Regions from separate parts of the Homo sapiens genome. Here region 1 is linked to region 2. The links come from fine-mapping of genetic effects on gene expression. A gene starts in region 2. The other region holds a variant in brackets. All regions are shown on one strand. Distances are between the middles of the regions. Region 1 holds the start of UBN1 (ubinuclein 1). Region 2 holds the start of ROGDI (rogdi atypical leucine zipper).

Region 1 (12,916 bases), 44 kb after region 2:
GAGGGGGTTGGGGGGGGGAGGGGCAGATGACTTGAGGTCAGGAGTTTGAGACCAGCCTGGCCAACATGGTGAAACCCCGTCTCTACTAAAAAATATAAAACAATTAGCCGGGTGTGGTGGTGTGCGCCTGTAGTCCCAGCTACTCGGGAGGCTCAGGCACCAGAATCACTTGTACCCGAGAGGTGGAGGTTGCAGTGAGCTGAGATCATGCCACTGCACTCCAGCCTGGGTGACAGAGTGAAACTCCATCTCAAAAAAAAAAAAAAAAAAAAATCAAACCATCTAGCTAGACCCAGGTAAGCCACTTGACATAGTGATAAAAAGCTAAACAAATCACTAGCAACTCAAGTTAATACAGGTTCTTCACGTTCTTCCCGTCACTGTAACATGTTATATGGTCAGAGTCTCAGATTAATGGTCCTGGTTTCCCCAACTTAGGACAGATCTGGTAAAAAGACTTACTATAACAATGTCAAAGCAAATCACTTAGTTTTACACATGAGAACATGATTGAACAATTACTTTTATTAACATAAATAAAAGTTTCCACTGTATACCCCAAGCATGAACCATAATGATATATGGCATTAAAAGAGAACTGAACATGGCTTTTATAAAAATAATTGCCAGCTGGGCGCAGTGGCTCACGCCTATAATCCAGCACTTTGGGAGGCCAAGGCAGGTGGATTGCTTGAGTCCAGGAGTTCAAGAACATCCTGGGCAACATGGTAAAACCCCCTCTACAAAAAATTAGCTGGGCATGGTGGTGCACACCTGTGGTCCCAGCTACTCGGGAGGCTGAGGTGAGAGAACCGCTTGAGTCAGTGAGGCAGAGGTTGCGGTGAACTGAGACTGCCTCTGCACTCCAGGCTGGGTGACAGACTAAGTCTCTGTCTCAAAAACAAACAAAAAGGAACTGCCTTTGGAGTTGGGTAAAGAAACATGTGAGAAACTGTTTCAATGTGATTGTTATAGTTAGAAGGTAAATGAACCTAGTTCTTGCCTGACTTAGTTATAGACCTAGGACAGTTGTCTAGGGCAATTTCTGCAAGAAATTGCACCTTTATTTAGGTATGAAGGCAGAATGAGATGCCAGTATTACACATTATAAGAAGACTGAACTAAGGATCCTTAGAATATTTTCAAAGCAGCTCAGACTCCAGGTAACACAGAAAGAAAGGCGAAGGGAGACTCCTGGTGAGTACTACTCACTGATCTTCTGTTCCAAAAAATTTCACAAAGAAGCATTTCTTTCCGCGAGGTTTCTTCAAGTCCTTTGGTGGATTAACAATCTGGAGGATAAAAGGGGGGAAAAAGGTTGGCTGGCAACACAGCAGCCCACTTTCTAGTGGCTCCACATTGCTCTACAGTTCTACGTTGCTAAGAAAAAAGTAAATTAAAAGGACTTACTTACAAATAAATTTATTTATATACAAAACAGAACCCAAGGCCTAGTACTTGTCTAAATCTCCCATTTTTCTATTGAGGTGTATGGAAATGTGTAGATATTCTAGAAGTTCCCAATATTTAACATGTAGCACAGTGCTCAGTAGACACAATATCCCTTTTACTGCAGTGGCCCTGTTTTACAAGCAGTTAAAACTAAGATCAACAGCATCCCCTGCCCCCCACCACCCCACCCCTGCTCCAATGTGACCCCATTATTACTGAAAAAATGCAGACGACACTCTTTGAAATACTTCCTGTGCAGGAAGGGTTGACACAGGACATAGTGAAAACAAAGGACAACCGAGGCACAGAAAACACCATATTGCAAAGAGACCATCTAAAGACACCTCCCGGGCTCCAAGCAAGAATATAAAAACACAACATTTGGAAAGCAATGATGGATCACCTCATGCAAAATCTGGAATGCCAACTTCTGCAAAGAGGCACTGGAGTAGCACATATGGTAACATGGAAAGAAGATTTAAACTTAGTTGGGACAAAAATACTTTGGCTTTTCACTAACCTACATTTAGACTTTCTTCCTGGATAATTTATATTTTCTTCTCCTTTTGTTACATTTAAGCATAAAGCTAAATTCAGACTAGAATTATTTCCGGGGTTAAAAAAGAAACTTCATAAACCTCCTCTAAATCCAGAAATAAGGGTTTAGAGAAGATTTAATGATCTGGTGTATACTGCATTGCCTTTTAAAAAATAACCGATACTAGGGGAAAAAAAATTCTAAGTGCCATCTGAATGAGCCCAATTTAACTCAATACTAGAAACTGAGAGGAATGCATCTTACATTCTCCACCTCTTCAAACCCAACTTCAGATCTCTTCCTTTAGTAGCAAGACACTCACCTTTCCTGGCCAAGGAGGATATCGGCCGAGTTTCCCCCTAGAGAAAACACAAAGAGTCAACACTTGCCCTGCAAAAGCCAGTCCATCTCCTTCAACCCACTCAATACGCAATTTATTTTCCTAAATCTCTGCTGGCATCCTCAAATGCCGAAACAAAAGCTTTCATAGCTGGGCCCAACACCCTCAGAAGTAAAATGCAAAATTGTATACTTATGTGCACAACGCATATCCATTCTTCTGTTGACAAGGAATACAGAACAACACAACTGTCAAAAGTCACTTGTCTAGAGCTTCTTAATGACGGGGGTGGGAGGACAGCTTCCTCTGTAAACACAGACTTTCCCTCCCTAAGTCTGGTTTAATTCAACAGGAGACCTGCCTGGCTTTGACAAATGCTAATGGAAGCCTTCCTCTGGGTGGAGAAACAAGCTACGCAGCTCGAGGGAGGCGGCGACAAAGTCTTGGTTCGGGCGGTTGTCTGGGACACAGAAGCAGACCGCGGGAGGCACCCAAGCGTGCACTGGTCACTGCCAAGCCATCGGTTGTAAAGGAGAAGTCCCCCCGCCGTTTCTTCGCGGGGCAACGCCAGCAGTCCGGTTTAGACAACCCCGGCTGAGCCGGCCGCACAGGTCGGCTGCATCGCAACCTGGGCTTTGACCGAATGGCACCGGCCAGATCTCGCAGGTCCGGTCCCCGGCGCTTCTGCTTTCTGGGAAGCCCCAACAAGACCCCGGGGACCGGTCGTCCGGGGAAGCCTCGCGGCACCGGCGGCTCCCTTCACGGGGGCCGCCAGTATCTGGGCCCCGAGTGCAGACCCCACCCGGCCGGCCTCGGGGATCAAAGCCGGTGCCCGACGTGGCCACCCTCGGCCTCGGTCCCCCGGGACTGGACTGCCCCTTCCGCCTGGCGCCGCTCGCAAGCGCCGGCACCTTCTCTTCCCCTCTCTCCGCGACCTGGAGCGCATAAAAAGGCAGCTCCAGGGCCGGCAGCGAACCCCGCGCCCAGGCGGGTAGCTCCCCGGCGCGTCTCGGTTGGCCCGGCCGCTCGGACTCACCACACCAAGTCGCCGAGCCGCAGACTCACAGCCGCCATCTTACCACCCAACCACCGCCGACGCACGGGCCGCCGGGAACAGCAAGTCGCCCCGGCGCCGCCCATTGGAGTGGGCCCGACCACGTGACGGGGGCCGGCTGTCACTGGCCACGCCGCTACTCTGACGTCACCGCGCCCGCCGGGGATCATTGGTCGACCGAGGGGCACGTGACGCGAGCGCCGCGGTCTCCGCGCGCCGGAGCGCAGAGACTCCCGGCTCCTTCCCCCTCCCTTCGGCTCGTGACAACGAAGCGCCCGCGGTCTGAGGCGGCGGCGGCGGCGACGGTGCGACCGGCTGAGCGCGAGAGGGAGCCGGCCTCGCGGCTCGCCCCGCCCCCGGGTCTTGGACTCCGCGCCCCTCCCCTCTCGGCGCTTCCGTTACGCCCGTTGGTCCGGCGCGGGCCCCGGGGCCATTCCCGAGCCCGAGGCGCTGGTCGGCCCCGTCGCAGCGCCAGTGAGCTACCCTGACGGAGCTCGGCGCGGCCTGGAACTCAGCCTCCGCCGGGTCTGGGCTCCCGCGCCCGGCAACTCTGCTTGGCCGCAGGCCGGGAGGCCCCGGTGTCCGCGCCCGTCCGCTCCCGCCGCCCGTGTTCTTTGGAGCGCTCCTCCCGACGGCCGCTTTCGGAGGCGCCGTCTGAGCGCGGGGTCCCGCGCCGCAAGTTCTCCTGGGGCGACCGGAGGCTGCTCCCCCGACCCCCTGGTGTCCCCGGAGTGGCTGCGCGGACGTCGAGTTGGCATTTCTTCGCTTCCTCCTGGGCCGGCGCGCGGCGCGGCACACCAGGCTCCCCTGGGCTCGGGGACCCGGCCATGGGCCGAGGCGCGGGCCGCCCGCCCGCTGGGAGCCACGGCTTAGCAGCCGACCGCTAGCTGCGCCGCCGCCCGGGGACCGGCATGAGGACCGCCGCGGGGGGACGTCTGCGGCCCGCGTCGGCGCTGGGGACAAAGGTGCGTGTCGTTGTCGGGTCCGGGCTCTCTCGTTAGCCTTGCCCTAGTTTTGCACTTTTGAAAAAGTTGTGACAACAGGAAGACAGATGCCGGGCGTAGTTTGGACACTTTAAAACTGAACCATGAACTGGGAAGTGTTAACTGCAGTTGAGCGCAGCGTCGGCCCAAACTTCAGCAGACCAGGTAGAATCACAATTTTGCAAAAGATCCCAGTCCCGATCACAGACTCCACAGTGTTAAGGATTGACTTAGACTTGGTGTCGGGCTCTTGTTGAGTCACTGCCAGCTGGCAAAGGTGGCGAGTCGACACGCATTTCCCCAAGGCATTGTGGTGGTTAGAGATTTCGGTTGCAAGTCGGTGTTTAGCGTACTGGGTCGTCCCGCAGCCTGATTTTTCTTGGGAGATCAGTTTCCCTGAAGTACCAAGAATTAGCTGCACGGACTGTCATTTACTGCGTGTGTATTTTTAAGACAAAGTGATCTTTAAAGCGTATTTAAGATTCCAGGGAATAATTTGATAAAAATTTAACATAAGTTCCTGTTTAAAAATTCTGAATTTGTGAGGAATTGAATGAGATTTTAATAACTTAAATAAAAACATGAATCTTGGCCGGGCAGGGTGGTATAAGCCTGTAATCCCAGCATTTTGGGATGCCGAGGCGGGTGGACCACCTGAGATCAGGAGTTCGAGACCAGCCTGGCCAACACGGTCAAACCCAGTACTCTACTAAAAATACAAAATTAGCCGGGCGTGGTGGCGCATGCCTGTAGTCCCAGCTACTTGGGAGGCTGAGGCAGGAGAATCGCTTAACCCGGGAAGCGGAGGTTGCCGTGAGCCGAGATTATGTCACTGCACTCCAGCTAGGCGACAGAGCGAGCGAGACTCGTCCCCCCGCCAAAAAGAAAAAAGAAAAAAAAATCTCAAATGAACATTGCACCAAAACCTAGAGGCATTCCCCTTAACATCAGAAACATGGTACATTTCTACCACTATTAGATAATAAGAATATATTGCCTAAAACCTGAAAGTTCTAGCCAGTGCAGTAAGACAGGAAACAAAAATAAGAAATGCAATTTTTGGAAAAGGGAAGACAGAATTCTCATTTCCGTGGATGATAGGTCTGCCTATTTTGAAAACAAAAACAAAAACCAAAAAACCCATTAAAATAAGAATTCAGGAAGGGTACTCATTATAAGTTGGAATGCACAATTTAGTTTTTCTGTTTCATCAATAACCAGTTTGAAAATACAATGTTTAGAAGGAGATATATATATATATAGTAAGAAAAAATTAAAAATTGCTGAGGATAACCAAGGGACAAGGAAGGCTAGTATTTTCTCAGTAACACCAACTGAGGTTTTTAAAGGGGGATCTTTGTTTTTTTCTTTTTTTTGTTTGAGACGGAGTTTCACTCTTGTCGCCCAGGCTGGAGTGCAGTGGCAGGATCACGGCTCACTGCAGCCTGGACCTTCCCAGTCTAAAGCCATCCTCCCACCTCAGCCTCCTTAGTAGCCAAGACTACAGGGGTGTGCCACCATACCTGGCTAATTTAAAAAAAATTTTTTTGTGCAGATGAAGTCTCATCATGTTGTCCAGGCTGGTCTTAAACTCCTAGGCTCCAGCGATCATCCTGCCTTAGCCTCCCAAAGTGCTGGGTCCGGGAAGTTGAGGCTGCAGTGAGCTCTCATGGTGCCACTGCACTCCAGCCTGGGCAACAGGAGTGAGGCAACTGTCTCACAAAAAAAAAAAAAAAAACCACAAAAAAAGCTAAAATCTTTCCAAGGACTTAGGCAACTCTCGTAAGTCTAATAGATAAATGTAAGTTTTTTTTAAGCATTCAAACATGTTTGAACTTAATTATATTTTCTTAAGCATTTTGAATTATGATTGTAAGTCTAACGTACCATTGTTAAATATATTGGATTCTCTTAAATGTTTCAAATGGCTTAGTAACAGCAGAACATTATAATGATTATAAAACAACCCCAAATCTAAGTGGTAATAGAGTACAGATTTGACTCACTTTATCCTGTAGTCCTATTTTTTACCTTCTTGGGCCTGGAGAGTCACTTAAGCAACTGAAAGGAGCAGTTTTGCCATCTAGGATTGAAGCTGCAGTCTCTCAGACTTGGACTGAGATAAGGTTATGTGTTTACTGCCTGGACAGGGGGAGTAGGACCTGGTTGCCAATTCAAGGATGACCTTCCTGCATCCCATTGGTTAACTTGCTGATTCCCTTCTTATAGTGAGACTGTTCCGGTTCTATCAGTGGGGGAATCTGTAAGCCTTCAGCTGGGATTTATTTCCACAACCCAGCGCATCACAAATATCCTGAGGGCCTTGGAGATTTCTTTTAGGGAAATCTCCTTTAACATCTTAGTACGTGTTGGGAGATGGTCTTTTGCAGCGCCAGCCTGTTACACTGCTAATCGTTTTGCCGCCTGATTAGAATTATTTTAACTCTTCATTTGTAGATATTTTGTTCCCTTATGTGATGTTATAAGTTGATTTTGTGATCATAATTCGACAAATGAATATTGGATATATACAAATACGTCTACATGTATGTGGATATATACGATATATGCTAATTTTCCTGAATTAACTCACATTTGTGATTGATTTACAACCAAAATACAGTGAGTTTTTTTGAAACCTGCCAAAATAATACATAGGCTGGAATGGCAAAGTATTATTTATAAAGAAGGATAATAAACATGAGCTTTAACTTTGCAACATTAAAGTATGAAACTTTACAAAACAGTGCAATACTGATTAAAGAATCTCTAAATACCGTATTAATATGACACATGGACTTCAGAAACAGGCCTTAGATATCTGTGATGTTGCTTTGCAATATATGCCAAATCAGCAGAGGAAGGAAGGATTGTTTAGTGATTGATGCTGGAAGAAACCAAGTTACAGCCTCTCCTCATACTTTATAGCATAGCAAATTCATCTGGGGTTAATGAAGTAAATGTGAAAAAATATCTATAAATGACCATATAGGCTGGGCTCAGTGGCTCACACCTGTAATCCCAGCAGGAGTTCAAAACCAGTCTGGGCAACATGGCAAAACAACGTCCCTACAAAAAATACAAAAATTAGCACGCCTGTAGTTCCAACTACTAGGGAGGCTGAGGTAGGAGGATCGCTTTAGCTTGGGAGGTTGAGGCCTCAGTGAGCTGAGATTGAGTCACTTTATTCCAGCCTGGGCAACAGAGTGAGACCTTGTCTCAAAAAACAAAAAACCTATATACACAAGTTCTTCTATAAGATCTGGTTGGAGACGAACATTCTAGGCATAAAAGAAATGGGAGGAGTCTCAAAGGAAAAGAGCCTAGTTTTAACTGCATACAAAGTTATAATTTCCTTGGAAGGAGGGTCGCTTGAGGTTGTGAGCTTAAGACCAGCCTGGGCAACATAGTGGGTCAGCATCTCTACAAAAAATAGAAAAAATTAGCCAGGCATGGTG[G/C]GATATACCTGTAGTCTCAGCTCCTCGAGAGGTTGAAGTGGTGAGAGGTTTGCTTGAGCCTGGGAGGTTGAGGCTGAAGTGGCTGTGATTGGGCCACTGCTCTCTAGCCTGGATATAACAGCGAGACCCTAGCTCAAAAAAAAAAGAAAAAAGTTAACATTTCTTTCATCATACCTCACTCTAAGCAACACTAAACAGCAAATAACAAAACAAGAAGAAGTACTTATAAGAGATATGACAGATTTTGTATATCTATAATGTATAATAATTTATGTATAATATCAAGAGCGCTTACAAGTCAATAAGAAAGTCACAATTTATTCAACCATTCCCTGATTGATTGTCATTTGATTGTCATTTTGGTTGCTTCCATCATTTTTCTTGTATAAACAAGGCTGCAATGAATATCTTTATTTATTGGTATGGTAGAAAGTTCACACTAGAATATGAACTCTTTTAAAAAGCAGGACACAAAATTGTATACGAAGTAAGCAGAAAACATGTATGGCATGTATTAGCATATTCATATTCTGTGAACATTTGGAATTCTGTATTCAAAATCTATTTTGACCATTCCCAAGTGATTTTGAAGGTCTTTGGCATGTCATAATTTGTTATTTTGTCAAGGCCAGTGTTTGGGTGTGAGAGTGGTGCACAGGGCAGGAGTGTGTAACTTTGTTAGGAAGTGAGCCTAGCCACACCCTCCTGAGTCACTGGTTCTTTACTATCCTGGGGTAGGCAATATCTTTTGTTCAGCTGATAAAAGCTTTGTCATTGTGAAGATTGGCTCCCAATGATAGGAAACTGCTGGTGATGAAAATAAAGGGGTCTTAAAGATTATTCTCAGCCAGAAAAAATAAGTGTTAGACAAATTAAATGGAAAATAATTAATATTTTAGTAGTCTTTACAATTTGGAGGTCTAAGGCTCTGTCAGCATGGGTTCTTTAAGGTCAAGGATCTAGGATACACATGCACAGGAAAAAAGACTGGAAGTATGCTAAGCAGTGACTATCTCTGAATGATTGTGAAAAAATTTTAGGATGAATAAGCAGAAAAAAACAATAAATGACAAAATATAACAATGGAGTTTTCTTGACAATGAAATTCTCTTAAACTTAAATCTCTTTAATTAGGCAGGTAAACTATTTTATCATCTTCGTTTGACCTGGCCCTTCTTTTCAATGTTAACAGAAGCCATGCAGTGACACCCGCTAAGACTTGTTGGTAGCCATGTCGGAGCCCCACAGGGTCCAGTTCACCTCTCTCCCAGGTTCCCTGAATCCTGCGTTTTTGAAGAAGTCCCGGAAGGAGGAGGCTGGGGCAGGAGAACAGCATCAGGACTGTGAGCCGGCTGCAGCAGCTGTTCGGATTACACTCACCCTCTTTGAACCAGATCACAAACGCTGCCCAGAGTTCTTCTACCCAGAGCTGGTGAAGAATATCCGAGGGAAGGTAAAAGGCCTTCAGCCTGGAGATAAGGTACACCCCTTTGTTCCCAGAGGCGCTGCAGGTTTAACGCACAGGGGTCAGTGCATGCATGTGGGGCTTCCGTAGCGGGGAAGCAAGACTTAACTGAGGTTTTGGCTGCCCCAAGATCCTGTCACTCACTCAAGGCAAGCACAAGATTTGCTTCTCTTACCTCTGTGCGCAAAGGGAGAGGCCAATTTGAATTATGACTAATTAACATAAATTTTAAAAACAATACATTTTTCTCTGCCAAGGTTATAAACGTTATGTGTAAATGAAACCAGTCCCTGACAGTTCCAGTGTTAGAATTTCATGCTGGACATTTTCCTCTTCCAACAGAATCTTGCTGTCTACCTAGTATAGGGGCAGACAAAAAAACACGTAGACTGCCTTTTTTTTTTTCTTTCTTTTTTTTTTTTTCGAGACCGAGTCTCGCCCTGTCGTCCAGGCTGGAATGCAATGGGGCGATCTCGGCTCACTGTAACCTCCGCCTCCCGAGTTCAAGTGATTCTCCTGCCTCAACCTCCCGAGTACCTGGGACTGACTACAGGTGCACGCCACCACACCCAGCTAATTTCTGTGTTTTTAGTAGAGATGGCGTTTCACTGTGTTGGCCAGGCTGGTCTCAAACTCCTGGCCTCAAGTGATCTGCCTGCCTTGGCTTCCCAAAGTGCTGGGATTACAAACATGAGCCACTGCACCTAGCCACAACTTGATGGATTTTCATGAACTCAGTACCCCCATGTAACCTGCACGTAGGTCACAAAATATATTTATCAGGACCCCAGAAACCCTCCTTCTGCCCTGCCAGAAGACTACCTCAATACTTATGGGCAACCACTGCCCTGATTTCTAACAGCTTAGATCTGCTTAGATTTGTGGGGTTTTTTTGTTTTTGAGGCAGAGTCTTACTCTGTCGCCCAGGCTGGAGTGCAGTGGCACCATCTTGTCTCAGTGCAACCTCTGCCTCCCGGGTTCACGCCATTCTCCTGCCTCAGCCTCCCGAGTAGCTGGGAGTGCAGGCGTCCGCCACCACGCCCGGCAAATTTTTTGTATTTTTAGTAGAGACAGCGTTTCAATGTGTTAGTCAGGGTGGTCTCGATCTCCTGACCTTGTGATCCACCCACCTTGGCCTCTCAAAGTGCTGGGATTACAGGCATGAGCCACAGCACCTGGCCTCTCTTTTTTGTTGTTGTTGTTGTTTTTTGAGACCAAGTCTCACTCTGTCACCCAGGCTGGAGTGCGGTGATGCAATCTTGGCTCACTGCAACTTCCGCCTCCCAGGTTCAAATGTTTCTCCTGCCTCAGCCTCCCGAGTAGCTAGGATTACGGGTGCCAGCCACCACGCCTGGCTAATTTTTTTTTTTTTTTTTTGTATTTTTAGTAGAGATGGGGTTTTACCATTTTAACCATGTAGGCCATGCTGGTCTCCAACTCCTGACCTCAAGTGATCCACCCACCTCCGCCTCCCAAAGTGTTAGGATTATAGGCGTGAGTCACCGCACCTGGCCGTGTTTTTGTATTTTATGTAGATGGAATTGTATGGTATTTGAGTACCGCCTAGGTGAAAAGCTGTTTTTTTTTTTGAGACAGAGTCTCGCTCTGTCGCCCAGGCTGGCATGCAGTGGTGCAATCTTGGCTCACTGCAAGCTCCGCCTCCTCGGTTCATGCCGTTTTCCTGTCTCAGCCTCTCGAGTAGCTGGGACTACAGGCGCCCGCCACCACGTCTGGTTAATTTTTTGTATTTTTAGTAGAGACAGGGTTCCACCGTGTTAGCCAGGATGGTCTCGATCTCCTGACCTCGTGATCCGCCCGTCTCTGCCTCCCAAAGTGCTGGGATTACAGGCGTGAGCCACCGTGCCTGGCCCGTGAAAAGCATTTTTAAGCACCTGTGTCTGCCTTTGCACTGTGCTAGGCTCTGAGGAAAAGGTAAGTGGGCCCCACACTCGCAGCATTGTGGTCTCTAGCATGTCTCTTAGTGAAATGGGGATGAGGCTGGTAATTGGTTCACAGTTGTCTGAGTGTGGAACGAGAATGAAATCATGTTGTGAATTTTCTAGCAGTATGCCTCAGTGCCAAGTGATCAGTCGGTCTTATTCACAGGTGTGCTGTTCGGAGGGTATTTTTGGTTAGAAGGATTAATCTTTTTTTCCTGAGATTAAAAAAATGTGTTTTCTTGGCCTGGCATAGTGGCTCACACCTGTAATCCCAGCACTTTGGGAGTCTGAGACATGAGGATCACTTGACCACAGGAGTTCAAGACTAGCCTGGGCAACATAGTGAAACTCCATCTGTGCAAAATAATACAGAAATTAGCTGGGCATGATGGTGCATGCCTGAAGTTCCAGCTACTCAGAAAGCTGAGGTGGGAGGATTGCTTGAGCCTGGGAGGTCAAGGTTGCAGTGAGCCGTGATCACACCACCGCACTGGGTGAAAGCAAGACCCTGTGTCAAAAAAAAAAAAAAAAAAAAAAGGCTGGAAGGCCTGGCGCAGTGACTCATGCCTGTAATCCCCACACTTTGGGTGGCCGAGGCAGGCGGATCACTTGATGTCAGGAGTTTGATACCAGCCTGATCAACATGGCAAAAACCCATCTCTACTAAAAATACAAAAATTAGCCGGGTGTGGTAGTGCATGCATGTAATCCCAGCTACTCGGTAGGCTGAGGCAGGATAATTGCTTGAACCCAGGAGGCAGAGATTGCAGTGAGCTGAGATCATGCCACTGTACTCCAGCCTGGGTGATGGCGACTCCATCTCCCCCTACCAAAAAACACCAAACCAAAAAAGAAAAAGTGTTTCCTTGATTGAGATCTGATTGCCTGATTGCCAGAATGGAGGCCTGTGAGTCTGTACCAAGGGTCAGCCTGTTGCATGAGCACCACTGGGCAGAATGACAGAAAGTAATTTCAAATCCCTTTATAATTCCTGTTTCAGGAAAATGGTATCTTCTTCCTTTAGAGGAAGAGACAGGAGCAGGAGTTGGTTAATGTGTTTATTCATGGGTTCAAACCAAATCAGCAGGTCAACTGAAATTAGAACTCCAGTGCTCTGATGTCACCTTTTTGGGGACTACAGATGCCCTTCACCATTGCAGAAAAATGCATGGAGGATACACAGAGAATTTTGATCCAATTCAGAGGATTCAGTCCTGGACTTCGGGTTCAGAACTCCTAAATCGTCGTGGGTCTACTCTGCAGTGTTAAAAATACAATAAAATCAGGCACATTTGTGCAGCAGTTCTTTTAGTGTATAGTCCTTAATAGTATGAAGGCATTGTGCTAGACTCAGAGGACTATAGAAAGTTAGAGAAAACACTGTACCAGCCTCAAAACAAACATCCTATAGATGTTTTGAGAGAATGGTACCACCGCAGGTAACAGAAATTACAATATGGTCATTGTTTAAGTCTGGTACGACACAGGCCCTGGAGGTCTTAGAAAGAAGAGAGCTTATTTCCTGATTAGTGTTGGGACAGAGCTGGACCTTCCGTCATACAGTCAGGAAATGGTAGTTATTGGAAGACTGCTGTTGGCAAGGCGTTCAGTAGTATACATAGAATCCAGTGCTGCTCAAGGTTGGTGGGATTTCTTACAGTTACATAACCACTCAAGTTATATGCG
Region 2 (15,043 bases):
ACGGGGATCCTGGGTGCTGGATCAATGGGGAATGGAAGGTCCTGGGAGGTCAGTCCCAGGGGCACAGGCTTTGTGGACAGGGGTACAGGCAACAAAGGTTGGTTGTAAAGGGCCAGAGAGGGCTTCCTGGAAGAGGCGATGGATGACTGGGTTGAGGTTTTCAGGGGGGTAAGCCAGGGTCACGGCTGATGGATGGTGGGACCACCTGGAGCCCATTCCTTCCCTTTGCCGTGGAGCAGAGCCCTGGCAGACTCCTCAGAGCCCCAGCTTTCGTGCCATTCAGCCGTGGCCATGAGTACCAGGGTGATGTGGCTCCCAGGAAACACGTAAGAGCTGACTGGGGGTATAGGGCCTGTAGCACCCTAGGGTGGTTACAGTTCTCGAAGGGATCTTAGTCTATCTGGTTCTAAGTGTGAGGAAACAGAGGTCCAGAGAGGGCAGGTGAACCACCGGAGGACACACAGCAAGTCAGGGGCAGAACTCAAGCATGAGGTCAGGTGCCCAGGTCAGCTCTTCACATGTGCCACGCGGTTAATGTGAAGGCTTTCACTGCTGCTACCGGCAGTGGTGTGTGCCGAGTGCTTACTGGGGGCCCCGTGACCTGAATTATTATGGTGAACAGTCACTCCAGCTTGCCCCTGACCCCACAGGTAGAAATGGAGACACAGAGTCGGCAGGTAAGTGCTTACAGGTTGCACAGCTCAACGTGGAGGCCCTGGGATTGGAACCCAGGTGTGATTCCGGATCAAGAACGTGGGACTAGGCCCAGGAGTCAGGCCCGGGGGCAGCTCACCTTGAGGACCTCAGCGCCCGTCTTGAACTGGTAGCTCTGGTCCCGGCTGGTAAGCAGGTAAATGGCTTGGCTCACATGGTTTCTGGCATCCTGGATCTGGAAGCAGGGGTCATCCAGAGGGGTCACGCCAGCTTCCATGCGGCCAGGAGGGGAGAGTGGGTGCTGCCTGCCTGCCCCACGTCATTCCACTCTCCACACTGTCATCCCTGTGCCCCAGAGGGCCAGGTCCACGCCAGGTGATGGGCATCTGGCATCACCTGGGGCAGGCCTGGTCTCTGCCCAAGCTGACTGCCCCCTCCTTTCTAAGGGATGGACACACAGTAATGCCCAAGACAAGAGTCTGTGCGAGTTGCGGAGGGAAGCAAACAGGGCGACAAGGCAGGGGCAAGGGTGCTGAGATGGAGACAGTCGGGGTGGAGGGGGCAGGGGAGGAGGCTGGGGCCCATTGGTACAGGAGCTGCCAGGGAGCATGGGCCTCATCCCCAGAGCCATGGCAAGTCCCTGGAGGCTCTGGGCAAGGGAGTGACTTTTCAGAGGGCTTCTGAACCATCTCATCCAGCCAGCTGCTGTGGGGACTCCACAGTCCCGATGTGGCCCTCGGGGCTCTCAGGCCAGGTTCTCTACCTCCCCACATGGCGCAGCCTCCAGGGCTTCAGGAAACGCCTGCCCCCAGCTTTGCTGTTAGGAAACACCCTCCCAGGCTTGCTGTGGCCACAGATCCCCAGGGCTAGTCCCTCTCCAGGGAGGCCCCGCGGCAGGCCTGCTGCCGCCTGTCCTTGTGGCTGAGCACTAGCCAGGAGGGGCGGGGTCACCTGCTGCAGCTTCCACTGCTTGTCCTCCCGGAAGGCGAAGTGCAGCAGCTGGTTGTTCCGGGGCATCTTCAGGTTCACATCCTGACAGGCAAGAGTGGGGTGAGCTGGGCAGTGGGGGGGCACCTCCTGCCACAGCCACTCTGAGCCCTTAAGCCCAGGGCAGAAATGGGGTGTGTGGTGGTTCAGGCCTTGGCCGCTGTATAGGGCAGAGGGTCTCCCAATGCCTTGGCCGTTTGGGGGTTGAACAGGGAGGTCAGGAAACAGGAAACCAGGCCCAAGAAGAGCCACAAAGAAGTGAAATGGAAAGAGGTGAAGAAAGGGGAAGGGGAAGAGGAAAGGCAGCCTCTGTGAGGCTCTGTGCGAACGGGGTGCATCTAGTGTCTACAAAGGGCAACAGATGGAGCCCAGGAGGGGGGCCTCCCCCCACGCCTTGGTGCCTGGCACAGAGTCGGGTGCAGACTGGAGTTCAGGCATTGGCTGATTCAACTGTGATGTGTGGCCAGCCTAATCCACCAATGCCCATGTTTCACTGGTCCGGACGCCAGGCCAGGCCGTGTGCAAAGAACCCCTCTCCTGCACCTCTTACTGAATCTGCACACCGATCCCGGGAGAAGGTGTGAGGGTTGCTGTCATTTTCCAAAGGAGAAAACTGAGGCCAGAGAGATCAAGGGTCCCGCCCAGAGTCGCAGGGCTTGTACAGAGAGAAAGTGGGAGCTCCCATGCTCTTCCCCATTGGCAGGATGGGAGGGGACAGGGCCGGGGGACTCACCGCCTGGCTGAGGGCATCCCCCTGCAGAGTCAGCACACCCTTCACCTGGTCTGTGCTGTAACATGTGGCGTCAGAGCGGTGCCTGTGGTCACCCCCCCACCACCCAGCCCTCCCTCCCGGCGGGCTGCCCCTCCTGTCCCATCGCACAACCAGCTGGTCTGCAGGACAGGGCTATGGCCATGCCTCCTACCCCCCAAGGTACCCATTTCCCCGGTTTCCGCCTAGCCCAGGCTCACCCACAGCTGCCTAGGATGAAGTTCTCTTGCTTGGCGGGCCCCTCAGTGCCGGAGCCCGGCAGAGTGAAGCGCAGAGAGGCCTCCTGTGGAACAGAGGGAAGGAGGGGAGCTGGTAGCGCCCACTCAGGCCCGGCCCAGTGCTCCTTCCAGAAGCCCCCCTCCCTCCAAGTCAGCGGGGGGAAGGAACAACGTGGCCTGGCCTCACCTGGGTTCAGCTGGGGTGGGAAGACCCTGCCCAAGCCCCCAGGGCACCTAACCGTGAGCCCGATCTCTGCTTATACCACATTCCCTGAACACCTCCTGTGTGCCCGCCTCGGGGAATACAAAACAGACAGGGGCAGCCTCCCAGCTTGGTTGAGGGGGAAAGGGGCAAGGGGCAGAGTCAGGGAACAAGGCAGTAGTTATGGTAACCCGCGGTCCTGGGCCACAGCAAGCACTACGCCGGTTACTTCTGTGAGCTGCCTGGCTCATTTATCTACACCCCAGCCTCGCGAAGCGGGTACTGTTATCTCCCTTTTGCCAATGAGAAAAGGGAGGCCCAGGGAGGTTCAGTGACTTGGCTGAAGTCACACTGCCAGGCAGAGGCAGAATTCTTCGGCTCCCAGATTGGATGCCGCTGCTCCCAAGGCGGCCTTCCCCGACCCGAGGCCGGGCGGGACTCAGGCCCTTGCTAGCACCCTCGTCGGGACCCGCCCCTGCCCGCACACAGGTACTTATATAATGAGGTCGGCTCGAGTTCGCGGAGGCGGGGCCCTGCCTGAAAGCCGCGGCAGCCGCACACTGTAGGCGCTCAGGACGCAGCCGCGCGGCCCCAGGTGGAGCCAGGGAAATGAGGAGGGAGGGCCGCCACGCCCGGCGGGGCAGGGCGCGGGTCGTTACCTTGAGGATGTCCTGCAGCTGCTTCAACACAGCGTGCACCTCGTCGTGCAGCAGCCAGCGGAACTCCTCCTCCTGCGGGACAGACCCGGCGGTCGCGCCCGGCCCCGCCGCCCCGCCGGCCCGCCCGCTGGCCCGCGCGCCTTACCAGCACCGCCCGCTCCGCCGCCGTCGCTGCCATCACGGTGGCCATGGCCGCAGGCCGCCGCCGAGCGCCCTCCCCACCGGCCGCTGCTCCTGTCCACCAATCTTTCTGTCCTCGGTCCTCCGGTCCTCCCGTCCGCCCCCGGCGTCTGGCTCCGCCCCCACCCGATTGGCGGAGCGGGTACCACCCCGCCCCCAGGCCGGCTCCGTGCTCGCGATTGGCTGGCGCCTGTCGGTCCGCCTCGGCCCCCGAAACCTGCGGGAGCCCTGGAACCAGACTGGCGGCTGCGGGAGTGAGGCTCGCTCCGCCTGGCCAGGGACGCGGCCGGCGGCTGCACGAGTCAGGCTTGCTCCGGCTGGCCAGGGACGCGGCCGGCACCAGCCTGGGGCGCCCGCTTGGGGGCGGAGCTCCCGGGGCGCCCCCAGGATATGATAGGGCGCTCTGCTCCACTCGCGCTCACTCATTGGCCGGCAGGACAGTCTGTCCCCGCTCCTCCTCCCTATTGGCCCGCTTGGCTCCATTGGTCGTGGTTCCAACCCTGCCGCGGACCTCGCCGCCACTCCCAAGTCCGTCTCACCCCGGACGCGGAGGTCCCGAAAACCCACCCCGGCCCCGCCGCTGCCTTCTCCTCCCACCCATCTCGCCGAGGACGAGGGAAGCAGGACTCCTGCGGCACAGCTGTGTTACCAAGAAGTGTTTTATTTTTCTTGCAGTAGCTTTGTTAATTGCACAAAATCATGTTTTGTTTTTGCCATTTAAACATTATCACACAATCCTATTCTGAAAGACAAATGTTCATTAAAAACAAAGCAAAAATAAAAATTCACAACCTTAATTACCTAGATTTGTCATTTAAAGGTTTAAAGAAAAAAGGGAGGGGCTTTCTTACAAGCTTTTTCACAAGTGTCACATTTTCTCCTTAAAAGGGAAGGATTTCAAAAGAAAGGTGAAATAGCTTAAACAGAAATATTCATAAAAAGGAACTTTACAGAATTGTCAACAATATTAAGACAAAATTGACTAACCGGTTTCATTACCGCATCTTCCCCCGCCCCCACCCCCAGTGTGTTCCGCCAGGACTAGAACAGGCTTTGTGTTCAGACAGAAATGCTTCAAAATCCCAGTGAAATGAACTGTGCTAAAAACCCGACAGGCATCTTCCCTGCCCTCCCCCCACTCGTCTTCTGCAATCCTCTAACCCAGTTTCTAATCTCTGAAAGGGGCCAAAGCTGTGAGGGGGGAAGGACCCCGCCCTAGTGTGGCCACCCTATATATAATTACATATTGCATCGTAAATGCTGGCCTTCCTTCTGCAAATTATGATTTTGGAAAATCCAACCCATGCAGAGGGATAAAAAACTGACATCCCTTGGGTAACTTTTTTTTTTGCAACATTCCAAGCCCCCCCCGGTCCCCTATCCAAGGACAAATGTAGGGCCTCTAGGATGTCCCAGACCCACCTCGGAGGGCCAGTCAGTTCAGGTAGGTCAGGCCCAGTTCTCTTCCCTCCCGACAGACCCCGGGCCCGGGAAGCACCGAAGACCATGATGCTGGCTGGAGTGAAGACACTCGTTTCCGTATCAAGAGCTGAGCCTAAGAAATGCTCATCGTTGGTCAGGCTGGGTCTGGGCCAAAGGGACAGACAGAAAGAAATACTGTCTCCACGGGAGGAAGAGGGAGAGGAGGGAGGATGGAGAGCGGTGGGCATGCAGGGGACTTGGCAGGGCAGGGTGGAGAAGGTGGGACCACTGGGAGGGGACCGAGGTAAGAGTGGCTCTTCAGAGCCAGGTGAAGAGTCTGTGGCCTAACGGAAACAGAAAGGAGCGCCCCCAACCCCCACTCCTCTTGGCTCATCACTAGTGGCCCTGAGGACTCCCTCCCAAGGGATGGAATGCAAATCCAAATACTAAAACAGCCTAGGGAGGAGCGAGCGCCCGCTGTGGCAGTGGCATCTGGGGCATGGCTTCGAGGCGGTGAGGGCCGGGCCTCCATGCTCACCTGCAGGCCGGCTGCTTGCTGCACTCCCTGGAAAGCCAGGGCCCCATCTTCTCGGGACTCTGCCAGTCTCTTTTCAGTTCACAAAGGCGTCTATGGAGCGCTGGGTGCACACTGGACGCTTAGACGTGAACATCTTTCTCAGCTCATCACCTGAGGTTGGAGGGCCCCAAGGGCCCCTCTGTCTGGAGTCTGTACTGGCTCATCTGGGCCCAAGGCCTCTCCTTGTAGGGAATCCAGTGGGGGATGGGGACATGACTACAGCCTCTTCGCTCTGGGGGAAGCTGTGGGAAGGCTTCCAACTCTCGTTGCTGATTCTAGTTCCTTGACTGGAAGGGGTTTGAGATAAGACAAGCTCGGAAGAAAAAAAGCCAGGCAGCAGTTTCTGGGCAGCTTCTATCCTGGGGCGAGAGCCTGTGTGTGTGTGTGTGTGTGTGTGTGTGTGTGTGTGTGAACACACAGCCACCTCGTCCGGGGGGCCAGTGCCCAGCTCAAGAGCTTTCCCACACGCCAATCCTGCTGACACTTGTCCCCTCCCCACCGGCCTCAGGGGAAGGGTGCTGCTGTGTGCTGTGCTGATGGCAAGTCTCAAAGTCTGTATAAAAGGAAATGGAGATAGGTGGGCTGGTCCAGAATGAACTCCCAGGCCCCCGACCCCATGTGAGGAAGAGGGGGTCAGAGGGGGGATTGGAGGGGTGAGGGCGGGGTGTCGACAGCTTAGTGTATGTAGGCTCGGTACACGGCGGACATATCGTTGTCAGACTGGTCCAGCGCCTTGGCTCTTTTGTACACCTGGAAAAAAAAGAGATGGCTCAGTCTCTGGCCCCAGAGCTGCCTTCAAGACCTAGACCTGATTCCTGGAGGCAGTGGTGGATGTGGCCAGCAGGCAGTGCTGGAGCCCAGGCTGTCCGGTTAGGAATCCTGTGTTGACCTTGCATGAAGCACCTCCGTTTCTCTGGACCTCAGCCACTGTGCTTCTTGCTCTGGGAGAAGGAACAGTACCCGGGGGATCTTGTGAGAATGAAATACACTATGGGATATAAAACATTCAGCATTGGCCGGGCACTGCGGCTCATGCCTGTAAGGCCGAGGTGGGTGGATCACCTGAAGTCAGGAGTTCGAGACCAGCCAGGCCAAAAAGGTGAAACCTCATCTCTACTAAAAATACAAAAATTAGGGCCAGGCGCAGTGGCTCATGCCTGTAATCCCAGCACTTTAGGAGGCCAAGGTGGGTGAATCACGAGGTCAGGAGATCAAGACCAGCCTGGTGACCGTCGTGAAACCCCTTCTTTAAAAAAAAAAAATACAAAAAATTAGCCGGGCATGGTGGCAGGTGCCTGTAATCCCAGCTACTCAGGAGGTTGAGGCAGGAGAATAGCTTGAACCTGGGAGGCGGAGGTTGCAGTGAGCTGAGATCACACCACTGCACTCCAGTCTGGGTGACAGAGCGAGACTCTGTCTCAAAAACAAAAAAAGAGCAAAACTGTCTCAAATAAATAAATAAATGAATAAAAAATAAAACAAGGGCAGATGAAACACCCAGGACACCTATACCTCAGAGTGAGAGTTCTCACACCTGTGGTGCTTCTGCCCCCAGGGGACATCTGGTAATATCTGGAGACATTTTCTGTCACCTGAGGAGGAGCTATGTCACTGGCGTCTGGTGGGTGGGCTACCCAACATCCTGCAGTGCTTGGATAGCCCCCCCACACAGAATGGCAGCAGTGCCGAGGTTGAGAAACCCTGCCTTAAAGGATGAGGGAGAGGAAGGGGGAAAGAAATGCTTCTGTGTGGTTGCAAAGTTTTTACATTTAATGGGAAATGGTACAAGATTAACTGTCTTTTTTTTTTTTCTTGAGACAGGGTCTTGCTCTGTTGCCCAGGCTGGAGTGCAGTGGTAGGATCATGGCTCATTGCAGCCTCGAACTCCTGGGCTCAAGCAATCCTCCTGCCTCACCTGCCTCAGCCTCCCAAGTAGCTAGGAATAGGGTGCTCGCCACCACGCCCAGCTAGTTTTTTATTTTTTTTTGTACAGATGGGGGTCTTGCTATGTTGCCCAGGCTGGTCTCAAACTCCTGGGCTTGCTTAAGCCTCGACCCTGCCTCGACCCTGCCTCGACCTCCCAAAGTGCTAGGATTACAAGGATCACAAGTATAAGCCACTGTGCCTGGCAAGATTAACTCTATCTTAAGGATTTATACCGCAATCTGTAGAGTAACCACTAAAAAAAGAATGCAGAGGCAAAGTAAAAAAGAAAATAGATAAATGAAACTGGAATTCTTTTTTCTTTTTTTTTTTTTTGAGATGGAGTCTTGCTCTGTCGCCCAGACTGGAGTGCAGTGGTGTGATCTCGGCTCACTGCCAGCTCTGCTCTGCCTCCCGGGTTCACGCCATTCTCCTGCTTCAGCCTCCCGAGTAGCTGGGACTACAGGCGCCCGCCACCACGCCTGGCTAATTTTTTGTATTTTTAGTAGAGACAGGGTTTCACCCTGTTAGCCAGGATGGTCTTGATCTCCTGACCTCGTGATCCACCCGCCTCGGCCTCCCAAAGTGCTGGGATTACAGGCGTGAGCCACTGCGCCTGGCCCCTTTTTTTTTTTTTTTTTTTTTTGAGACGGAGTCTTGGTCTGTCGCCCAGGCTGGAGTGCAATGGCACGATCTCGGCTCACTGCAACCTCCGCCTCCTGGGTTCAAGTGATTCTCCTGTCCCAGCCTCCGGAGTAGCTGGCATTAATAGTGCCCGCCACTATGCCCGGCTAATTTTTGGTATTTTTAGTAGAGACTGGGCTTCACTATATTGGCCAGGCTGATCTCGAACTCCTGACCTCAGGTGATCTGCCCGCCTCAGCCTCCCAAAGTGTTGAGATTATAGGTGTCAGCCACCGTGCCCAGCTGAAACTGGAATTCTAAAAAGAAAGTAAGAAAGGAGGAACAAACAAAAGACAAAGACAACGAACAGAAATCAAATGATAAAATGGCAGCCCCAAATTGAACCACATATCAATACAACTACTAAAGGTCAATGCACCAGTTAACCTTCAGAACCTAACCTCTGAACTCCTAACAGTATAGAGTCTAAGCTCATACCATCCAAACGACCTGAAAGCAGCGAGCTGCATTGAGAAATTAACCTAAAAACTCTGCTTCCAAGCCAATGAATCCTGTAGTCAGGGTGGAGGCAACTTGGAAGTCACTTCAAAGAGAAGCTTTCCCAGCCCAAGCCACATGAAACCCTTGGGAAATAACTATAGTCAGAAATGAGCTTTCATCAAAAAAGACTTATAAAATACACAACGAATTCTACTATCCAGAGAGAATCCACTGGTAGAATGAACAGGGGGGACTTGAAATAGTAATGTAATCTGAAAGAGTCATGAAATAAGTACTCTGAAATGTTGAAACAGACAAGAGACAGAAGACAGAATTTAGGAACAAGGCTGCATGCGGTGGCTCATGCCTGTAATCCCAGCACTTTGGGAGGCCAAGGCAGGCGGATTACTTGAGGCCAGGAGTTCGAGTCCAGCCTGGTCAAAATGGTAAAACCCTGTCTCTACTACAAATACAAAAATTAGCCAAGTGTGGCGGTGCATGCCTGCGGTTCCAGCTACTTGGGAGGCTGAGGCAGGAGAATCACTTTAACCCAAGAGGTGGGGGCTGCAGTGAACTGAGATCATGTCACTGCACTCCAGCCTGGGCAACAGAGTGAGACTCTGTCTCAAAAAAAAAAAAAAAAAAAAATACAATTCAGGAACAGAGAATTATACTATGAAAAGCCAGGTGTCAAAAGAACAGTACTGGCTGGGTGCCATGGCTCACGCCTGTAATCCCAGCACTTAGGTAGGCTGAGGTGGGTGGATCACCTGAGGTCAGGAGTTTGAGACCAACCTGGCCAACATGGTGAAACCGTATCTCTACTAAAAATACAAAAAGTTAGCCAGGAGTACTGGCAGGCACCTGTAATCCCAGCTACTGTGGAGGCTGAGGCAGGAGAATCACTTGAACCCAGGAGGCAGAGGTTGCAGTGAGCCGAGATTACACCATTGCACTCCAGCTTGGGCAACAAGGGTGAAACTCGGTCTCTAAAATAAAATAAAATAAAATAAAATAACATAAAATAAAAGTGTATCAGCTGATAGTACTTTAAAAATACAGCTGCTGTTTCACAAAGTGTCATTTTTATTATAATAATATGGTAAAGACAAATGTTTTTCAGTTGTTTTTTTTTTAGATTCAAATTCTATGAAGATGAGCTAAGAAAGCGGAACTTCTACCCTAAAAAGCTTTTCGAAAGTGTATGTGAAGTTGGATACAGTTGTGCACGCCTATAGTCCCAGCTACTCGGGAGGCTGAGGTGGGAGGATTGCTTGAGCCTAGGAAGTCAAGGCTGCAGTGAGCTATAATTGTGCCACTGCACTTTACCTGGGCAAGAGAGTGAGACTGTGTCTCAAATATAAAAAAAGTGCACGTGTTAAGTGCTTAAAACATCATTTGAAAAATGCTAATAGACATGCTAATTAAAAGGCAGATACTGTCAAAATGGATAAAAATCCAAACCCCAATTACATACTGTCTATCAAAGCCATAATTTAGACATAAATAAGAGAGGAAATGGATGGAAAAATATACATACCATGAAAACAATAAGCCTGAGAAGGCTGTAGCAGCTTTCGTTTTTTTTTTTTTTTTTTTGCGATGGAGTCTCACTCTGTTGCCCAGGCTGGAGTGCAGTGGTGCGATCTAGGCTCACTGCAACCTCCCGCCTCCCAGGTTCAAGCAATTCTCTGCCTCAGCCTCCTGAGTAGCTGAGATTAAAGGTGCCTGCCACCATGCCCAGCTAATTTTTTGTATTTTTAGTAGAGATAGGGGTTTCAACATCTTGGTCAGGAGAATGAGACCATCCTGGCTAACACAGTGGAACCCCGTCTTTACTAAAAATACAAAAAATTAGCCAGGCATGGTGGCAGGCGCCTGCAGTCCCAGCTACTCAGGAGGGTGAGGCAGGAGAATGGAGTGAACCCGGGAGACGAAGCTTGCAGTGAGCCGAGATCGTGCCACTGTACTCCAGCTTGGGTGACAGAGCGAAACTCCGTCTCAAAAAAAAAAAAAAAAAAAATCATACAGGCAGCTGGTTGTGGTGGTTCATGCCTGTCATCCCAGCACTTTGGGAGGCTGAGGTGGACGGATCACCTGAGGTCAGCAGTTCAAGCCCAGCCTGGCCAACATGGTGAAACCTCATCTCTACTAAAAATACAAAAATCAGTTGTGTATGGTGGTGTGTGCCTGTAATCCCAGCTACTCAAGAGGCTGAGGCATGAGAATCGCTTGAACTTGGGAGGCAGAGGTTGCGGTGAGCCGAGATCGCGACACTGCACTCCAGCCTGGGCGAAAGAGCAAAACTCTGTCTCCAAAAAAAACAAAAAAACAAAAAACAAAAAAACAAAAAAAACCCAATACAGGGCAGGGCATGTTCTTTGATCATAGAGCAGTAAGTTAAAAATCAATAATCATTAGATATCTAGGAAAACCCAAACACTAGATAAACTTTTAAGTAATTCATGGATCAAAGAAGAAATCAGAAAACAAATTAACACGGATTAGTGGACATTTAAAGATTTATATACTCATGTTATAAAGAAAGCAGGATTAAAATAAATGATTTAAGATTCCACTTTAAAGGGTTTGAAAAAGAACAAAGAGGCCAGACACAGTGGCTCACACCTGTAATCCCAGCACTTTGAGAGGCTGAGGCAGGTGGCTCTCCTGAGGTCAGGAGTTGGAGAACAGCCTAGCCAACATGGCAAAACCCCATCTCTACTAAAAATACAAAAATTAGCAGGGCGGGTTGGGGCACGCCTGTAATCCCAGGCTACTTGGGAGGCTACTTGGGAGGCAGAGGCACAAAAATCTATTGAACCCAGGAGGCAGAGGCTGCAGTGAGCTGAGATCACACCACTGCACTCCAGCCTGGGCGACAGAGTGAGACTCTGTCTCAAAAAAAAGAAAAAGAACAAAGAAAAGCTAAACTAAGTAGAGGGAAGGAAACGATAAAAGAAAAAGAAACTTGGCCAGGTGTAGTGGCTCACACCTGTAATCCCAGCACTTTGGGAGGCCGAGGCGGGCAGATCACGAGGTCAGGAGATCGAGACCATCCTGGCTAACATGGTGAAACCCTGTCTCTACTAAAAAAAAAAAAAAAAAAAAAAAAAAAAAAAAAATTAGCCGGGCGTGGTGGCAAGAGCCTGAGGCGACAGAGCAAGACTCTGTCTCAAAATAAAAGAAAAAGAAAAAGAAAAAGAAACTGAATGGCTGGGCGTGGTAGCTCATGCCTGTAATCCCAGCACTCTGGGAGGCAGAGGCGGGTGGATCACCTGAGGTCAGGAGTTCGAGACCAGCCTGAACAACAAGGAGAAACCCCATCTCTGCTAAAAATACAAAAATTAGCTAGGCATGGTGGTGGGCACCTATAATCCCAACTACTCAGGAGGCTGAGGCAGGAGAATTGCTTGAAACCAGGAGGCGGAGGTTGCATTGAGCTGAGATCGCACCAGTGCACTCTAGCCTGGGTGACAGAGTGAGACTCCGTTAAAAAAAAAAAAAAAAGAAAGAAAAAGAAACTGAAGGGCCTTGGGGCTTGGGCCACATCTACCCTACCTCATTTGCTGCAGCTGCCATGGGAGTCGGATGGTTGACCGCATCACCCAGCGCAATGGCTAAGCGGAGATCCTTCTGAATGTATTTCAGGTAGAAATCAGGCTTAAAGTTTCCTTGCAGGATATCTGAGGAGAAAAAGCCAGTATCAGACAAAAGCCAAGGACCTGAAACTAAAAACTACTTACGGTCCACCAGGTGTCAGTACCTAAAACATACTCAGGGCTCAGTTCCACATAGCCTAGGCCTCTTGGCTCCTCACTCACCCTTAGACACCTGAGGGCTGCAGCTCCCAGCCTATATCCCCAAATCCCGCCCACTGTGTTTCTGAACCTCCTCTGGCCAGGGTCAGGGACTGACTGGGGAGGGGCATCTTTCACGCTCACTAAATCCCTGACCTAGTACCCTGCTCTAATCAAACACCAAATGCAAGAAGAGGGGCCAAAAACAACTCACTTTGGCACTTCTGGTCCAGGAAGATGCTGGCCAACTGTCCCTGATTGAGGATGTCCAAGAGTGTCTGCTGGGACTGGCCTGTCACCTGGGCCAGGGTCAGCCCCTCGGCAATAGTGGCCATGAAGCTCCCTTGGACCATGTTCACGATCAGCATCATCTTGGCTGCATTGCCCACTTCACCTGCCCAGGGTAAAGACTCACGGTCACAGCCCAAGAATGCCACAGACAGGGCTTCTCTGTCCACCCTCACCTCTGCTCAGACCCACCTCTCTCCAGGGGAGGCCCCCTTCACCTGCCCCCGACAGACTGGCTCTTCCTCCTTCCACGCACTGACTATGCAGGTGAAAGGAAACCTTCCCCAGGGTCCCCGGCAGAAAGGCCGTGTGGGACTGACGCTGTCATCAGTGTGAAACAGAGGAGATGTGGCCCCAGGCTCCAGGCCTGACAGGTGCAGGCGTGTTACCTAGGAAGAAGGAGGTCTTCCCCATCGCCTGGAAGCAGCTGCTGCAGTCCTCATATAAGCCCCTGTCTCCAGCCGCTAAGATCACCAACATCCCGTCATTAGACAGCTGCTGATTCCCTGAGACGGGGGCTTCCAGAAAGCGCCCCCCCCTGGACACAATCACCTGGAAAGAAAAGTCACAGCTTCTGGAGGCCTCCCCTCTCCCAGCGCTCTCTGGGCAGGACTCAAGGAGTGTTGCTGAGTGGCCACGGCTGCTCATCACCTTCCAGAGCTGGAGGGGACGGCCACCCATACCAAGGTCCTTTAGCTGACACCTAAACTCAGGAGCTAACCATGTGCAGGTCACACAGGCCGAATCACAGCAGTGATGAGACGCTGGGGTCTCCACACAGGAACCCAACTGACTTGGAATTTTTTTTTTTTTTTTGAGGTGGAGTCTCGCTGTCGCCCAGGCTGGAGTGCAGTGGAGCGATCTCGGATCACTGCAAGCTCCGCCTCGCGGGTTCATGCCATTCTCCTGCCTCAGCCTCCCGAGTAACTGGGACTACAGGCGTCCACCACCACGCCTGGCTAATTTTTTGTATTTTTAGTAGAGACAGGTTTCACCATATTAGCCAGGATTGTCTTGATCTCCTGACCTTGTGATCCGCCCGCCTCGGCCTCCCAAAGTGCTTGGATTACAGGAGTGAGCCACCACGCCTGGCCGGAATTTTTTTGTTTTGTTTTTTTGAGACAGAGTCTTGCTCTGTTGCCCAGGCTGGAGTGCAGTGGCGCAATCTCAGCTCACTGCAAACTCTGCCTCCCGGGTTCATGCCATTCTCCTGCATCAGCCTCCTCAGTAGCTGGGACTACAGGCAACCGCCACCATGCCTGGCTAATTTTTTTTTTTTTTTTTGAGACGGAGTCTTGCTCTGTTGCCCAGGCTGGAGTGCAGTGGCACGATCACAGCTCACTGCAAGCTCCGCCTCCTGGGTTCATGCCGCTCTCCTGCCTCAGCCTCCCAAGTAGCTGGGACTACAGGTGCCCGCCACCGCGTCCGGCTAATTTTTTTGTATTTTTAGTAGAGATGGGGTTTCACCGTGTTAGCCAGGATGGTCTCGATCTCCTGACCTCGTGATCCGCCCACCTCGGCCTCCCAAAGTGCTGGGATTACAGGCGTGAGCCACCGCGCCCGGACTGGAATTTCTTAGAGACCAACAACTAGAACCAGATGTGACCATGTCAATGGCTCGGCTGAACACACACCTCCCCTGTGGATGCTGCCCTCCCCTCAGAACATATGTGGGTCCCAAAGTCCCCACTCCCTTATTTGGGCCAGATGCTCGGGGAGGAGGGATGCTTTGCCAGTGTCAAATGCAGACAGCTGCTCAAACCCCAATGCCAGGCGGGCGGCCTGGGTTGCTTCTCATCATAAGGCTGGCAGCTCCAGGACTTGATGCCCATCCCAGCCATGCAGCGACTGCCCATGGCTGTTCAGACTAGCTGCGGTTTGAAGGTGGAGCACGGGATAGGCTAGTCCCAAGGCTACTCGCCTCTCCTCTTCCCTCTCTGGCTTTGGCTCTAGAGTAACTTAACTGCCCACTCTTGTAAGCCTGGGTCTTGGGCTCTGATAGAAAAGATGCTGGAGAGCCAGCCCAAGGAAGGCTGCTACCTGGGCCAGCTCAGTGACGGTGTCAGCGTCCACTGTTGACATGTCCACGTAGCACTTCCCAGGGCGGATCCCTTGCAGCACACCACTGGGGCCCAGCACCAGCTGTGGGGACACAAGGGAGAAGCAATAGCCCAGGCTCCCGGGCAGATGCTCAGGAGCCCTACAGACCTCAGATCAGAATCCTGCTGCTGTTTTGGCT

Evidence for each region. PIP is the estimated chance that this variant, and not a neighbour inherited with it, causes the effect.
Region 1: its variant is fine-mapped to the expression of ROGDI in prostate (GTEx, PIP 0.92).

Annotation. Positions count from the first base shown.
Region 1 is chr16:4,843,862-4,856,777 of GRCh38, forward strand. UBN1 (ubinuclein 1) reads left to right here and starts at 3,620. Exons shown (of 18, transcript NM_001079514.3): 1 at 3,620-4,349; 2 at 9,018-9,305. The coding sequence starts at 9,057. It overlaps GLYR1 (glyoxylate reductase 1 homolog), which reads right to left and starts at 3,427. Exons shown (of 16, transcript NM_032569.4): 1 at 3,367-3,427; 2 at 2,313-2,349; 3 at 1,213-1,292. The coding sequence starts at 3,404. RefSeq lists enhancers at 2,871-2,930, 3,231-3,290, 3,586-4,428, 8,009-9,208 and silencers at 3,481-4,200, 4,211-4,300. The variant G/C (reference allele first, on the strand shown) is at 7,826.
Region 2 is chr16:4,798,893-4,813,935 of GRCh38, forward strand. ROGDI (rogdi atypical leucine zipper) reads right to left here and starts at 3,741. Exons shown (of 11, transcript NM_024589.3): 1 at 3,635-3,741; 2 at 3,490-3,561; 3 at 2,611-2,693; 4 at 2,375-2,429; 5 at 1,606-1,686; 6 at 794-889. The coding sequence starts at 3,679. It overlaps GLYR1 (glyoxylate reductase 1 homolog), which reads right to left. Exons shown (of 16, transcript NM_032569.4): 12 at 14,845-14,946; 13 at 13,194-13,356; 14 at 12,731-12,910; 15 at 12,278-12,402; 16 at 4,311-6,418. The coding sequence ends at 6,344. RefSeq lists enhancers at 3,249-3,749, 5,796-6,090 and silencers at 3,255-3,314, 3,355-4,144, 4,037-4,248.